Homo sapiens: one gene and its partners. The protein of the gene in region 2 purifies or fractionates together with the protein of the main gene of each other region. This does not show direct contact. Each region holds a gene or a part of one and is shown on either strand. Other genes may lie near its edges.

Region 1 (4,059 bases), on a different chromosome or scaffold from region 2:
ATCACCTGAGGTCAGGAGTTTGAGACTAGCCTGGCCAACATGGTGAAACCCCATCTCTACTAAAATACAAAAATTAGCCGGGCATGGTGGCAGGTGCCTGTAATCCCAGCTACTCGAGAGGCTGAGGCAGGAGAATCGCTTGAACCCAGGAGGTGGAGGCTGCAGTGAGCTGAGGTAACACCACAGCACTCCAGCCTGGGTGACAAAGCAAGACTCTGTCTCAAAAAAAAATTACACTGAAAGACTTTATGGTAAGTATTTAAAACTAAATATACCAACCTGTGGTATATTACACATTTTAATATATTCTTCCATAATGCCCACTAAGAAGAAATAAATGGGATAAATGATGAAAAAAAATAAAGCAAATAAACACGCTTTTAGGAATGTTTTCGCATGTGTACATGTCAGGGCACATGAAAATGATTCCTCATTAGAACTCTCTACATCCTAAAAATTACAAAGACCGAGTTTCTACTTCAATTTTTTCTTCTGCTTGAAGTATATCTGGATCAACATGAACAACCGGAGGTCGCAGGATAACTTCAGGCCCTCCACCATAAATAGACTGCAGAAAATTCCATGTTTCTTCAGAAATCTGGCCAGAATCTGCTCCTTAAAATTACGTAGAAGAAATAATGTTTACAAACCTATATATTCATATTGCAAAAGCGTTCATAATGTACCCCCCAGCATGAATCTTCTCGGGATAATTGAGAACTTCTGGAACATGAATCTGCAGACTACCAGCCCATATTGTTATAAGCTGAAACATATGGCTTGTCTTAAAAAGTCAGAGATGCTTTTGCTTTGCTCTTAACAACAGCCTTAAGACCTTTCCTCAGATAAAAAAAAAGTGGCTGCTTTTCATTACTTGCCCTAGTTAATGTATGGATTACATTCTTCAGTTGAATAAAAAAGTACTATAGATGACTAATGATAACATATTTCTAACAGTGACAAATCACTCACAAGTAAAAGCTTAAATACGAGTCAAACTTACCTTGCCTAAGCATCACATTACCACATTTAGTGACTGCAATCTTAGTATTGTCAATAGGACCTGGAGGATCTAAAGGAAAAAATATCAAAATGTATTTTTCAAAGAAATGTAACAAAAAATTGCATAATTTTGTGCTTGACAAAATTGTGACCTATAACTACATTATCAGACTGGTTATTTCTCAGGCAAATTATTATAGTTAATTCTTTTTTTTTTTTTTTGAGATGGAGTCTCGCTCTGTTGCCCAGGCTGGAGTGCAGTGGCACCATCACAGCTCACTGCAACCTCCGCCTTGGGTTCAAGTGATTCTCCTGCCTCAGCCTCCTGAGTAGCTGGGAATACAGGCACACACCACCACGCCCGGCTAATTTTTGCTTTTTTTTTTTTTTTTAGTAGAGATGGGAGTTTCACCATGTTGGTCAGGCTGGTCTCGAACTCCTGACCTCACGATCTACCCACCTCAGCCTCCCAAAGTGCTGGGATTACAGGCGTGAGCCACTACACCTGGCCTATGGTTAATTCTTAATGTCTTCTCCTGAGCTTCTTCGTTTTTAGTTCTTAGTTCCCCCAAAACAGAACCAGGAAAGAAGGTAAGAGAGGCTCGTTCACAACCATCACAGTTTAACAGAAATGTTTTGTTTTTTTTTTTTTTTTTGAGACGGAGTCTCGCTCTGTTGCCAAGGGCTGGAGTGCAGTGGCATCATCTCGGCTCACTGCAAGCTCCGCCTCCCAGGTTCATGCCATTCTCCTGCCTCAGCCTCCCGAGTAGCTGGGACTACAGGCACCCACCACCACGCCCAGCTAATTTTTTGTATTTTTAGTAGAGATGGGGTTTCACCGTGTTAGCCAGGATGGTCTTGATCTCCTGACCTCGTGATCCACCCCCCTCGGCCTCCCAAAGTGCTGGGATGACAGGCATGAGCCACCACGCCCGGCCCAGAAATTATTTTTTAACTCTCCATTTGGGGATTACAAGTCAAAATGTACCACTAATGCTATAAAATAGCAATTCCTTTGTAATTTGAAAGAAATTATACAATTAATTTGCTTCAGATTATCAAAGTAACATTAAGAACAATAAAAGCATTATAAAAGAAACCGTTTAAATACATTCTTTTTAAAATTTAAGGCAAAAGTGAACCGCATGGTCATCATCAAAAGTTGTAAAAGCAACTTAAACAAATTTACAATTAAAAAAACCCAATTAGAAAGTGGACAAAGAACATGAACACTTCTCAAAAGAAGACATTTATGTGGCCAAAAAAACATGAAAAAAAGATCAACATCACTGATCATTAGAGAAACACAAATCAAAACCACAATGAGATACCATGTCACATCAGTCAGAATGCCAGTTATTAAAAAGTCAAGAAACAGGCTGGGCCCAGTGGCTTATGCCTGTAATCCCACCACTTTGGGAGGCCGAGGCAGGTGGCTCACTTGAGATCAGGAGTTTGAGACCAACCTGGCTAACATGGTGAAACCCCATCTCTACTAAAAATAGAAAAATTAGCCAGGCATGACAGCGGCACCTGTAATCCCAGCTACTCAGGACGCTGAGGCAGGACAATCGTCTGAACCCAGGAGGAGGTTGCAATGAGCTGAGATCACGCCACTCCACTCCAGCCTGAGTGACAAAGTGAGCCTCTTTTTCAAAAAAAAGAGAGAGTCAAGAAACAAGAGATGCTGGCGAGGCTGTGGAGAAATGGGAACACTTTTACACTGTTGGTGGGAATGTAAATTAGTTCAACCATTGTGGAAGACAGTGTGGCAATTCCTCAAAGACCTAGAACCAGAAATACCATTTGACCCAGCAATCCCATTACTGGGTATATATCCAAAAGAACACAATTCATTCTATTATAAAGATACATGCACACATATGTTCATGGCAGCACTATTCACAATAGCAAAGATAAGGAATCAACCCAAATGCCCATCTATGATAGACTGGATAAAGAAAATGTGGTAAATATACACTATGGAATACTACGCAGCCATAAAAAGGAAAGAGATCATGTCCTATGCAGGGACATGGATGGAGCTGGAAGCCATTATCCTCAGCAAACTAATGCAAGAACAGAAAACCAAACACTGCATGTTCTCACTTATAAGTGGGGGCTGAACAACAAGAACACAAGGACACAGGGAGGAGAACACACACTAGGGCCTGTTGGTGGGGGTTGAGGGATGAGGGGTGGGAGAACAACAGGAAAAACAGCTAATGCATGCTGGGCTTGATACCTAGGTAATGGGTTGATAGGTGGAGCAAATCGCCATGGCACATGTTTACCTATGTAACAAACCTGCACATCCTGCACATGTATGCTGGAACTTACAAAATAAAAATAAATTTTTTTAAAGGTGTAGAAAAGCCAGATATGGTGGTGTGCACCTATAGTCCCAGCTACTCAGGAGGCTGAAGCAAGAGGATCGCTGGAGCCCAGGAGTTTGAGGCCAGCCTGGACAATACAGAGAGAACTCAGTAATTCAGCACTTTGGGAGGCCAAGGTTGGTGCACTGCTTGAGCCCAGGAGTTCCTGGGCAACACTGTGAGACCATGTCTCTACAAATAATTGTAAAAAATAATTTTTAAATTAGCCAAGTGTGGTAGTACATGCCTGTAGTCCCAACTACTCAGGAGATGGAGGTAGGAGGATCGCATGGGCTGAGAGTTCAGGGCTGCAGTGAGCCATAATCATGCTGCTGTACTTAAACCTGGGCAACAGGGTTAAGACCTTGTCTCTATTAATTTAAAATTTTAAAAAGTAAATACATAAATACAAAAAGCTTTAACTAGGCATATTGTTGCAGCCTTTTTCACATATCAGAATCTTTTTTTTTTTTTTTTTTTTAAAGACAAAGTCTTGCTCTGTCACCCAGGCTGGAGTACAGTGGCATGATCTCAGTTCACTGCAGCCTCCGCCTCGTGGATTCAAGCAATTCTCCTGCCTCAGCCTCCTGAGTAGCTGGGATTACAGGTGACTGCCACCACACCCAGCTAATTTTTGTATTTTTAGTAGAGACAGGGTTTCACTATGTTTCAGGCTGGTCTT
Region 2 (4,753 bases):
GGCCCCTTGTCTCAAGATGGGGCCAACTATTCAGTGCAGTTCATGCTCCAGAGCTCCTGAAAGGATTAGGGTGATGCCAGACTCAAGCTGAGATGAAATCCTGGTTTAGATTCTTCCTCTGCCTTTTCCAGTTTCCTTCCTTCCCTTTCTCCAGAGAGCATCCCCTTAATGAGTCACCACATCCAAATCTTATTAGGTTTTGCTTTTAGGGAACTCACACTAAGCCATAAGGTATTAATGTGGTAGCATACGGTTGAGATGAGGATTAGTCGAGGGGATTGCTGTCAGAATTAGTCCTTCACTTGAGGATAAAGATAGCTCTGGGTCAGCAAGTCTTTTCCCTAGTCACTTTTAACAGGTACCTTTGGGAAAACAAACCTCAAAGAAGTTGTTGGGGCAACTCAGAGAAGGGAGCATTTAAACAGGACCAAAAACAACTTTATAGAAAAAAACATTAATTAAAGGATTGTCAAAGCCCCAGGACTCTTTTTTCCTTAGGACATCTCTCATTTTTTACCTCTTTGCTATTCTTATTTTTTTCTCATTTACAGATAAAGAAAAGAAAGCAACACTCAAAGTGCTTCTTAGACTTATTGTTCGAAAAGTTGGGTACTTTGTAAGTGCCTGCTGTATTGAATTTACAGAGCACCCATGACTTTATGGAAGTCACAATCTGTTGAAAAGTTTGGGTTCTTAGACTTGAAATAATGAGAAAACTTTGAAAAATGGTACAGAGTATCTTTACAGAGTTTATGCACAATAAAAACAAAAATGATATGTTGTGATTATTAAAAGCAAATTTGGTACAATTTAGGATAACTATCTTACCCAATATGTCAATATATTTATATTTCAAATGTGCAAGCCAAGTGAAAGCAGCTTTTGTAAATGGGAAGATAAATTGTCTGATGGACAATGTCTAAAGAGAACTGAAGCCACACTAATGACTGTGGTATGGGACAAACCATTTAACTTCTCTGGTCTTCATAAATGGTTCAGGCAAACAGGGTTATGCTACATCAGGGGTTCCTAGTCCCTGGAGCTCATAGAGGTGTTTTAGGAGGTTAATGTCATCATCCAAGGTGGTAATCTTTCTTTCCATGTCTTTTTAAATTTTTTAAATAAAGTTTTTAAAATACATTTTTAGAGGCGGGTCTCACTATGTTGTCCAGGCTAGTCTTTAACTTTTGGCCTCAAGCGATCCTCCTGCCTCAGCCTCCCAAAATCAGGCTGGGCACAGTGGTGCACACCTGTAATCGCAGCACTTTGGGACGTTGAAGCAGGTCGATGGCTTCAGTTCAGGAGTTCGAGACCAGCAGGGCAACATGGTGAAACTGTCTCTACAAAAAATACAAAAAAAATTAGCCGGGCATGGTGGCATGTGTCTGTGGTTCCAGTTACTCAGGAGGCTGGGGTGAGAGGATAACTTGAGCCCAGGAAGTTGAGGCTGCAGTGAGCTGGTTCACGCCACTGCACTCCAGCCTGGGTGACAAAGTGAACCACCCCCCACAAAAAAAAAAAAAAAAAAAAAAAAAAATCTAAAATGGGTATTTATAACTTTGTTCAGTTTAAAAAAGAGTTTGAGAATTTCTAAATTTATACCATGTGTTAGGGGAAACTAATGTTTTTACTCATGACTCAGTCACTCAGCTGACCACCACTAGCGTGTTGATGGTTTTAACTTTAATGCAGTTTAAATTGCTTTTATTTTTAGCCATAAGTTGTTTAACTTATACTCATAATGGTTGCTTTAGCACCATAACATAAGGTTATAAATTACTGAGGTGCATGGTAATTCTGCAAATTTGTCTCTAAAGTGGTCTTTGTCACATCTGAGAGGCAGCCATCTTCTGTTGAGTTTTATAAAGACCACCAAGATGTCTCTGATACCCTAAAACATCTTTAAAAAGAGGACACACAGTGGTAATTTAACTTGACATTTTCTTTATTGTGAATAAAAATTCCTTACCCTGCTAATTAATTATTTGAGGAATACTTAAAATTAGTAGGTTGAAATCTTTACTAATCATTTAGAAACAAAACATAGTATGTACTTTAAAAATAATAAATTGCATTTTTAGATGCAAAATCAAAGAATTCCAAATATCATATTATGCAAACTTTTTGTATTGTTTTGATGCTATATCATAGCCTCATTTCACTGTTTTAAAATAAATTTGAGCTTCAAAATAAACTTTTACTTTCCTTCTACACAATTAATTGAACAGTGGACATCACTTGCTAAATGGAAAGTAAGCACTGCCAGCATTGTCTGTCTTTGGTGTTTTTTTTTTTACCTATTTATTAGAACCATAGTATTTCTTCATTATTAATTTGTATGAACTATTTTTTAAGATATTAACTCTTTTCTCCTATATTTTTGTTTTCATTTAAACATTGTTGTGACATATTGAAATGTTTATCTTTACTTTTCATTTTTTTTAAGTTAGTTTTTTGTTTGTTTTTTAGAGATGGGGCCTTGCTATTTTGCCCAGGCTGGATTGTTGGGCTCAAGCAATCTTGAGCCTCAGCCTTCAAATAGCTGAGACTACAGGCATGTAACACCATATCTGCTTTTTTCCTTTGTGGTTTCTTCTATTCCTTTTGAGATCAGTTTCCTTCTGTTATGGGCTGAATTGTGTCCCCTCAAAACTCATGTTAAAGTCCTCGCCTTCAGTATCTCAGACTATAACTATAGTTGGAGATAGGGTCTTTAAAGAGGTAATTAATTTAAAATGAGATAATATGACTGGTGTGCTTATAAAAAGACAAGATGAGACACAGACAGACATAGAGGGAGGACCACGTGAAGACACGGAGAAGATGACGATCTATAAGCCAAGAAGAGAGGCCTCTGAAGATCGGTTTTATTCCCTGCTGACACCTTGATCTATGACTTCTAGACTCCAAGACTGTGAGAAAATAAATTTCTGTTGTTGAAAAGCCTCCCAGTGTGTACTACTTTGCTATGGCAGCCCTAGCAAACTAATACTATATCCTCCAACCTCCAAAATTCTGTAAAATGCTATACAATTCTATTTTCTTCTGTCTTTTCTATGGCTTTATTTTTCAGTTGACTTCTAAAATTTATTTGTATTTTTTTCTTGAATCTAAATTGATATATATTTCCCCCAAATTGCTGAACAGCTAACCCATCTACATGTATTGTCTATTTTAATGTGGGATTATTTTAGCCTCAGAGATATAATTGTCTGGAACACAGGGAAAACTTTTTCAGATATTGCTGCAGTAAATAACTTCTCTTCTTAAGAAGCACCTCTTCTCAGGGATTTAATTCTTTTTGTTTCACAATTATTTGTGAACTCTTTCCTGGAAAACCACAGTGGCTCATGTCTGTAATCCCAGAACTTTGGGAGGCTGAGGTGGGCGGACCACTCGAGCCCAGGAGTTCAATACCAGCCTGGGCAACATGGCAAAACTCCATCTCTACAAAAAAAAAAAAAAAGAAAGAAAGAAAAAGAAAAACCACAAGAATCAGGAAAGTAGCTGTATCTGAACTTATCTGTATTTCCCCAGGCAGAGCTCTATGCACATTAAGGAAGGACCGATGAAAGTGAGTCAAAGAATGTCAGCTCTTAAATCCTGGGTCACTATGGGTCAGTAGTAGTCTGTGGGGCCCCGAGGGGCAGGGGTGGTTCCTGAGGCCTTTTCACAGCTGTCTGCAATTTTGAAACTATTTTCATAACACTAAGTTGTGATTTGCCATTTCACTCTGCTGACATTTGCACTGATGGTACCGAAACAATGGTGGTTAATACTGCTAGTGCTTAAGCATAAATCAAAATAGTGGCTCCAAACTGTACTAGTAGACACCATATTCTATATAACATGCACTGATAGGAAACAAAAACCATTTCATATAAAAATGTTCTTAACGAAGCAGCAACATTGTTAATATTATCTTTTTTTCTTTTTTCTTTCTTCTGATTCAGCCCTCATTTATTACATCTTAACTCTTGAATATGTCTTTTTAAATGTTCTATGTGAGGACATAAGAAGTATGTATAAAATCCTTCTACTGAATACTGAAATACATTAGTTGTCTCAAGGAAAAGCACTTGTGGGATTGAGCTGCTAGCTGAACTTCCTGCTTTTTTCATGGGACACTTTTTATTTGAAGGAATTACTCACAAATTATGATTATTCAGACTTAGATATCTGGCATTTACTTTCTTGTGAATTCAAGAAGGGAACCTATCAGTTCAAGGAAAACAATCGACATTTCTTGCCAATGTGTAAATTTCAAACTTTCAAGCACAAATTTGAATTTTGGAAAATATGTATTCACCATCTAAGTTTGACAGATCTCCCATACTCGGGACTTTACTGATGAGATCCATGGTGATACTAACAGATGGAATTTTTTGATGTTGTGTAACAAAGTCACATTTCACATTGCAACTAACCTTTCAAAAAACTACTACTTGTTGAGTTTGGACCAAATTTTCTTCATATACATGAACAAAAACAACATATAACAATAGATTGAATGCAGTAGCAGATTTGAAGCTCCTCCTGTCTACTATTAAAATGGACAGAAAATAGATTTGCGCACAGTACCAGTTATTTTATTTTTTTATTTTGGAAAATATTTTTTTCATTAAGATATTTGTCATAGGTTTTTAAAAAACACTAATTGTTTTCAGTTCTAATGTCTAATATGGTAAAAATCAATAGGTAACTCATATAAACAAATGGTCTTTATACTTTCCAAAGCAATCTACAGATTCAG
Region 3 (4,876 bases), on a different chromosome or scaffold from region 2:
TGTAATCCCAGCTACTTGGGAGGCTGAGGCAGGTGAATTGCTTGAACCCAGGATGTAGAGGTTGCAGTGAGCTGAGATTGTGCCACTGCACTCCAGCCTGGGTAATGGAGTGAGACTCGGTTTCAAAAAAAAAAAAAAAAGAAAGGCAGAATCTCAGCTTCATCCTGACCTGCAATCAGCATCTGCATTTCCACAAGATCCCAGGAGGCCTCTGTGCTGGGTGGAGTTTGAGAGGCCCTGCTTTAAAGCATCCAAATAGTAAGGCAATGGGGACATCTGATAAACCGAGAGATTACAATTTGCTTTACCTCCTCAGGTGTTTACACATCCCAAGGGCTCTACCTGAGTTGTGTCTGTGTTCACTGCCTCCTTCCCTAGGATGAATTAGATTGTACTTCAGGTTAACTGAATCGTGCAGTATCAACCAAAGCATGTGTCTACGCGATAGCTTCCATTTAGTCTGCTACCATTGCATTCCAATGCTGCACTAAGGAAATTGTTGTAAACCAGAAATAAAATCCTATGCCTTCCAGCCAACTCAACAGACCCCCTCTTGGCCAAGTGGACCCCAGAGAAACCTGAAAATCTGAATTCCTGGCCGTAACAGGAAGAGAAGCCAGGCCCTTTTGGAGTTTAGGTTGAAATTGAGATCATAAGGTTGGCCAAAAAGACTCTGGAGTAGTAAGATACCATATTATAAAGTCATGTGAGGCAGGGGTTAAGTCACACACACCCCACAAACCATGAAATCTCCTTGGATGAGTTTCCATGAACTCAGTATAAAATGGCTTACTTTCCAACCCGACTCTGGTATAGCATCACAAGACAGATTGCAGACCCTAAAGGAAATACAAATATTTTACCTAAAAATATATTTTGTGGACATATTTTGAAACGGCTGTAACAGGACCAACAGATTGAAATGGCCCTGCCATGTTTTGTGGGGGGGGAATTTGCACCTGTAGAGAATCTCCATTAATGCAGTCAGACCTCTCCCCTTCTAGGCCTTCCCTGAATCTAGGAGAGATTAACTGAGAGCCTGCTGCCTCTAAGGCCTGAAAAGAAACATTTACCATTTATTCTCTCTGAAGGCTGCTACCCAGAGTCTTCATCTACATACCTTTGGCCTCTAACACTGCCTTAACTCAGGCATTTCTTTCTATTGATGTCAAGTTTGTAGACAAAGTTTAACTCTTTCAAGCAATCGTCAACCAGAAAATCTCTGAACCCACCTATGACCGGTAAGCTCCCCCTCCTTCAAGGTGTCCTGCCTCTTTAGGGAGGGCAAGTACACCTCCCATGTATTGATTTATGATTTTACCTACAATTCCTGCCTCTCTGAAATGTATAAAATCAAACTGCATCCTGACAGCCTCAGGCACACTTCCTCAGGACCTCCTGAGACTGTTCCCAGAGCCATGGTCCCTCATATTTGGCTCAGAATAAACCTCTTTCAAATATTTTAACAGAGTTTGGTTTTTCCATTAGCAATCCATTATCATCATCCACACTCGTCTCCTGGAATATGCACTAGAATCTATGAGGAGACACCATTTTACAAAGAAAGCTGAGGCTCAGAGAGGTTAAGTAACTTGGCCAGAGCTAGACAGCCATCAAAACCAGATGTCACTGGCTCTAAGCCACCATCTCTCTGTCTGAGGTTGAGCTGCTTCTACGAAGGCGATATGGTTTGGCTCTGTGTCCCCACCCAAATCTCATCTTGAATTGTACTCCCATAATTCCCACCTGTTGTGGGAGGGACTCAGGGGGAGATAACTGAATCATGGGGGCAGTTTCTCCAATACTGTTCTCATGGTAGTGAGTAACTCTCATGAGATCTGATGGTTTGATAAGGGGAAACCCCTTTCACTTGGCTCTCATTCTCTCTCTTGCCACCGCCGCCAGGTAAGAAGTGCCCATTGCCTTCTGCCGTGATGGTAGAAGGCCTCCCCAGCCATGTGGAACTGTAAGTCCGTTAAACCTCTTTCTTTTGTAAATTGCCCAGTCTCAGGTATGTCTTTATCAGCAGCATGAAAATGGACTAATACAGGAGGCTAACAAGGAGGTAAACGACAGAGCTGACCAACGTCACCTACAGAGAGAGCAAGACTAAAGAGAGAGGCGTTCAGAAGAAAAGGAAAGAATGGAAGCTGGCATCCTGAACCACGCGAAGACGTACCTGGTGATAGGCCATCAGGTGCTGAAAGATCTCCTCCATGGAAGAGTCTGTTGCCGAGCTGGACTGGAAAGCCCCAAAATCCCAGGATTTCTTCTTCTTTTCTTCTTCCAGCTCCTTCTCTCTGACCTTCTGCAATGCACCCCTGTATACCTGGTCCTGGCAGTAGACAATCTGTTCCATCTGGAAGTGGAGGCGGATCAGCTTCTCACCTTCTCTCTCTTGTTCTGCTCTAATGTCTTCAATTTTGGACTACAGTAAAAAATAAATAAATACAGTTTCCCTCAAGACACAAATTCCTGAGTCACAGGAAAGTAGGTAAGAAGTCCGTAAATACCAGGTTACCCAACGTGAGTGAAACAGCACGTTTCCTGGAACAGCCCTCTGGGCCGCGCCCTGGTGTATCTAAGGCAGGTTTCTAGCCCTGGCTGAGGGTCAGAGCTTCCCAGGAGGCTTGAGCCACAGATGGGCCGGACCCCCATCCCGGGGCCTGGGGACCTGCACAGGCTTGCTTTCAGGCCCCGTAACTCAGCTTCTTTCCTTTCTCTTTTAGGGGCTTCTATATCTGATGGCGAGGATTGTCATATCCATCAGATAATCCACAGGGATGAGCAGGAAAGCCATGTTTAAGTCAGAAAATTATGTTTTATGTTCCCGGGGTTTAGAGAAACTGGTTGCCAAAACCTGAGGAGGAGAAACTTCACCCCTGGACCCTCCAGGCCTTGAGGAGAGGCACAGTGCACAGTGGCAGGTGCATCCTAAACATCTTACTCCACGTCCATCTCAACCTTCTGAGGAAGGCCTTATCAGTCTTCTTTTATGAATGAGGAGTCAGGGGCACAGGCTGGAAGTGGCACATCCCAAGGCCTCCAGCTGGTGAATCATGGGGCCAGGCTCCTCATCTGTGCCGGGGACACCTATTTCTAAGAGTGGCTAAGTCTGGTCTCTTGGCCCAGTCTGTCCCCCAGGCTCATTTCCTGTAGGCTCTTTCCTCACTCTGGATGGAAAGTTTTTTTGTTTGTTTTTTTTTTTTTTTTTGAGACGGGGTCTCGCTCCATCGCCTAGGCTAGAGTGCAGTGATGCAATGTTGGCTCACTGCAACTTCCACCTCCTGGGCTCAATCAATTCTAAAGTGTCAGCCTCCCAAGTAGCTGGGATTACAGGCATGCACCACCACGTCCAGCTACTTTTTTGTATTTTTAGTAGAGATGGGGTTTTGCCATGTGGGCCAGGCTGGTCTCAAACTCCTGGCTTTAAGTCATCTACCGGCCTCAGCCTCCCAAAGTGCTGGGATTACAGGCTCATCATGCCCACTCGGGCCAGAAATATTCTATTTTTATATGTAGTTTCCTCAGTGAGTTTCTGGATTTGGAGCCATTGCCCTTAGATGTGATAATCTTCTCCGCTAACTGTGGATCTCTTGTTCTGTGCGTTTAAGCACTCCCTCCTTTATTGCTTTTAACCAGACATCACCGGTAACATCAGAAGAAGCACTAGTGAGTGATGTTATTTGCTGTTCTAAAAGTATACAATAAAGTTGAAATAATCCTCATCCAAGAAATCTATTTTCTAGTGTCAAGCTTAATTTCTTTTCTTTTTTTTTTTTAAACAACACATGGTTGGTTTTACCTTGGCGGTTCTGTGGAGGTTAAAAAACTCTTCAAAATTTTTTATCGAAACATCTGTGAAAGCAAGCCGGACCATATCTAATCAAAGAGAGAAAAATAGTTCAATATTGGTAGGATCATTTGTTCTCTTCTTAAGATGCAAAAAAATATGAGGATCAAATGGTATGAAGTAAAGTTTCCCCTCTCCCCGCTCCCTTCTTCTCTTTACCATGAAAAAGCAAGGCATGCTCTTTTTGCTTAATAATTTGCTGGAAGAATCTTAAAAGCAAATGACCCCTGGCATACATTTATTTGATATTTAAACTTTTTATCCTAAATAGCTGCAAAGAATGTAATTTCTTTTAAATTATAAATATTAATATTTTATAATACAACTCTTAATATAAGTCAAATCACTCTTAAATATATCAATGGAATTTGAGTGTCTACATTATCCATTTGAAAAAAATACAAGAACAAGCTCTTAGATTAAAAAATTTATATTATTTATCTTTTATTTTTGAAACTCATTTCTATTCTACTTCCTCACAGAATTTTATTGTAATACAAGGTATAGTATCTTTATGATTGAAAACCTCTTATTGATCTCCATGTCATACATTTCTGAAAAAGAAATAGGTATATCTATGTTGATTTTTATGACTATAAGGCTCTAAGTATTATAAACTTTCCTCTGGAATGAGTTAAGAGTCTACAATGGACCAAAACAACATGATTGCAGGTTTTGGTATATGATTATCAGGGCTAAAAGGTCAATTTTACTGGAAATACACCTCTGAATGAGCTGTTCTGAGGCTATCTCCAGCTCCTTAGTTCATGGATCCATGAGTGATTATTAATTACTGCTAAGATGAGGCAGCTGAAGTGTGAGTAAGGATACTGTCAGTCAAGGAGAGGATGAAGAATAGAGATTTAATACCTGGAAAACCAAGAAAGCAAAGCATTTCAAGAAGGGAGTGGATCCACAGTAGGATCTAGTTTCCTACCTATCCGTGACACACCTAGATTCCTACAGCACTCCAAAAGGTTCCAAACACATCTACACGTGCAGTTATGGAACCATTGGCTTTAC

Evidence for each region. The genes of interacting proteins can lie anywhere in the genome.
Region 1: the proteins of TRPC3 (region 2) and USP33 purify together in Homo sapiens (affinity purification with mass spectrometry; one large-scale study listed by BioGRID and IntAct). This does not show direct contact.
Region 3: the proteins of TRPC3 (region 2) and MX1 purify together in Homo sapiens (co-immunoprecipitation; one study listed by IntAct). This does not show direct contact.

What each region holds. Positions count from the first base shown.
Region 1 is NC_000001.11:77,696,860-77,700,918, forward strand, and holds part of USP33 (ubiquitin carboxyl-terminal hydrolase 33), read right to left. Parts: intron 1,073-4,059; coding exon 1,004-1,072; intron 616-1,003; coding exon 458-615; 3' UTR 1-457. UniProt on the Homo sapiens protein: Deubiquitinating enzyme involved in various processes such as centrosome duplication, cellular migration and beta-2 adrenergic receptor/ADRB2 recycling.
Region 2 is NC_000004.12:121,872,674-121,877,426, reverse strand, and holds the end of TRPC3 (short transient receptor potential channel 3), read left to right. Parts: 3' UTR 1-2,946; downstream 2,947-4,753. UniProt on the Homo sapiens protein: Forms a receptor-activated non-selective calcium permeant cation channel.
Region 3 is NC_000021.9:41,450,173-41,455,048, reverse strand, and holds part of MX1 (interferon-induced GTP-binding protein Mx1), read right to left. Parts: intron 3,883-4,876; coding exon 3,806-3,882; intron 2,429-3,805; coding exon 2,180-2,428; intron 1-2,179.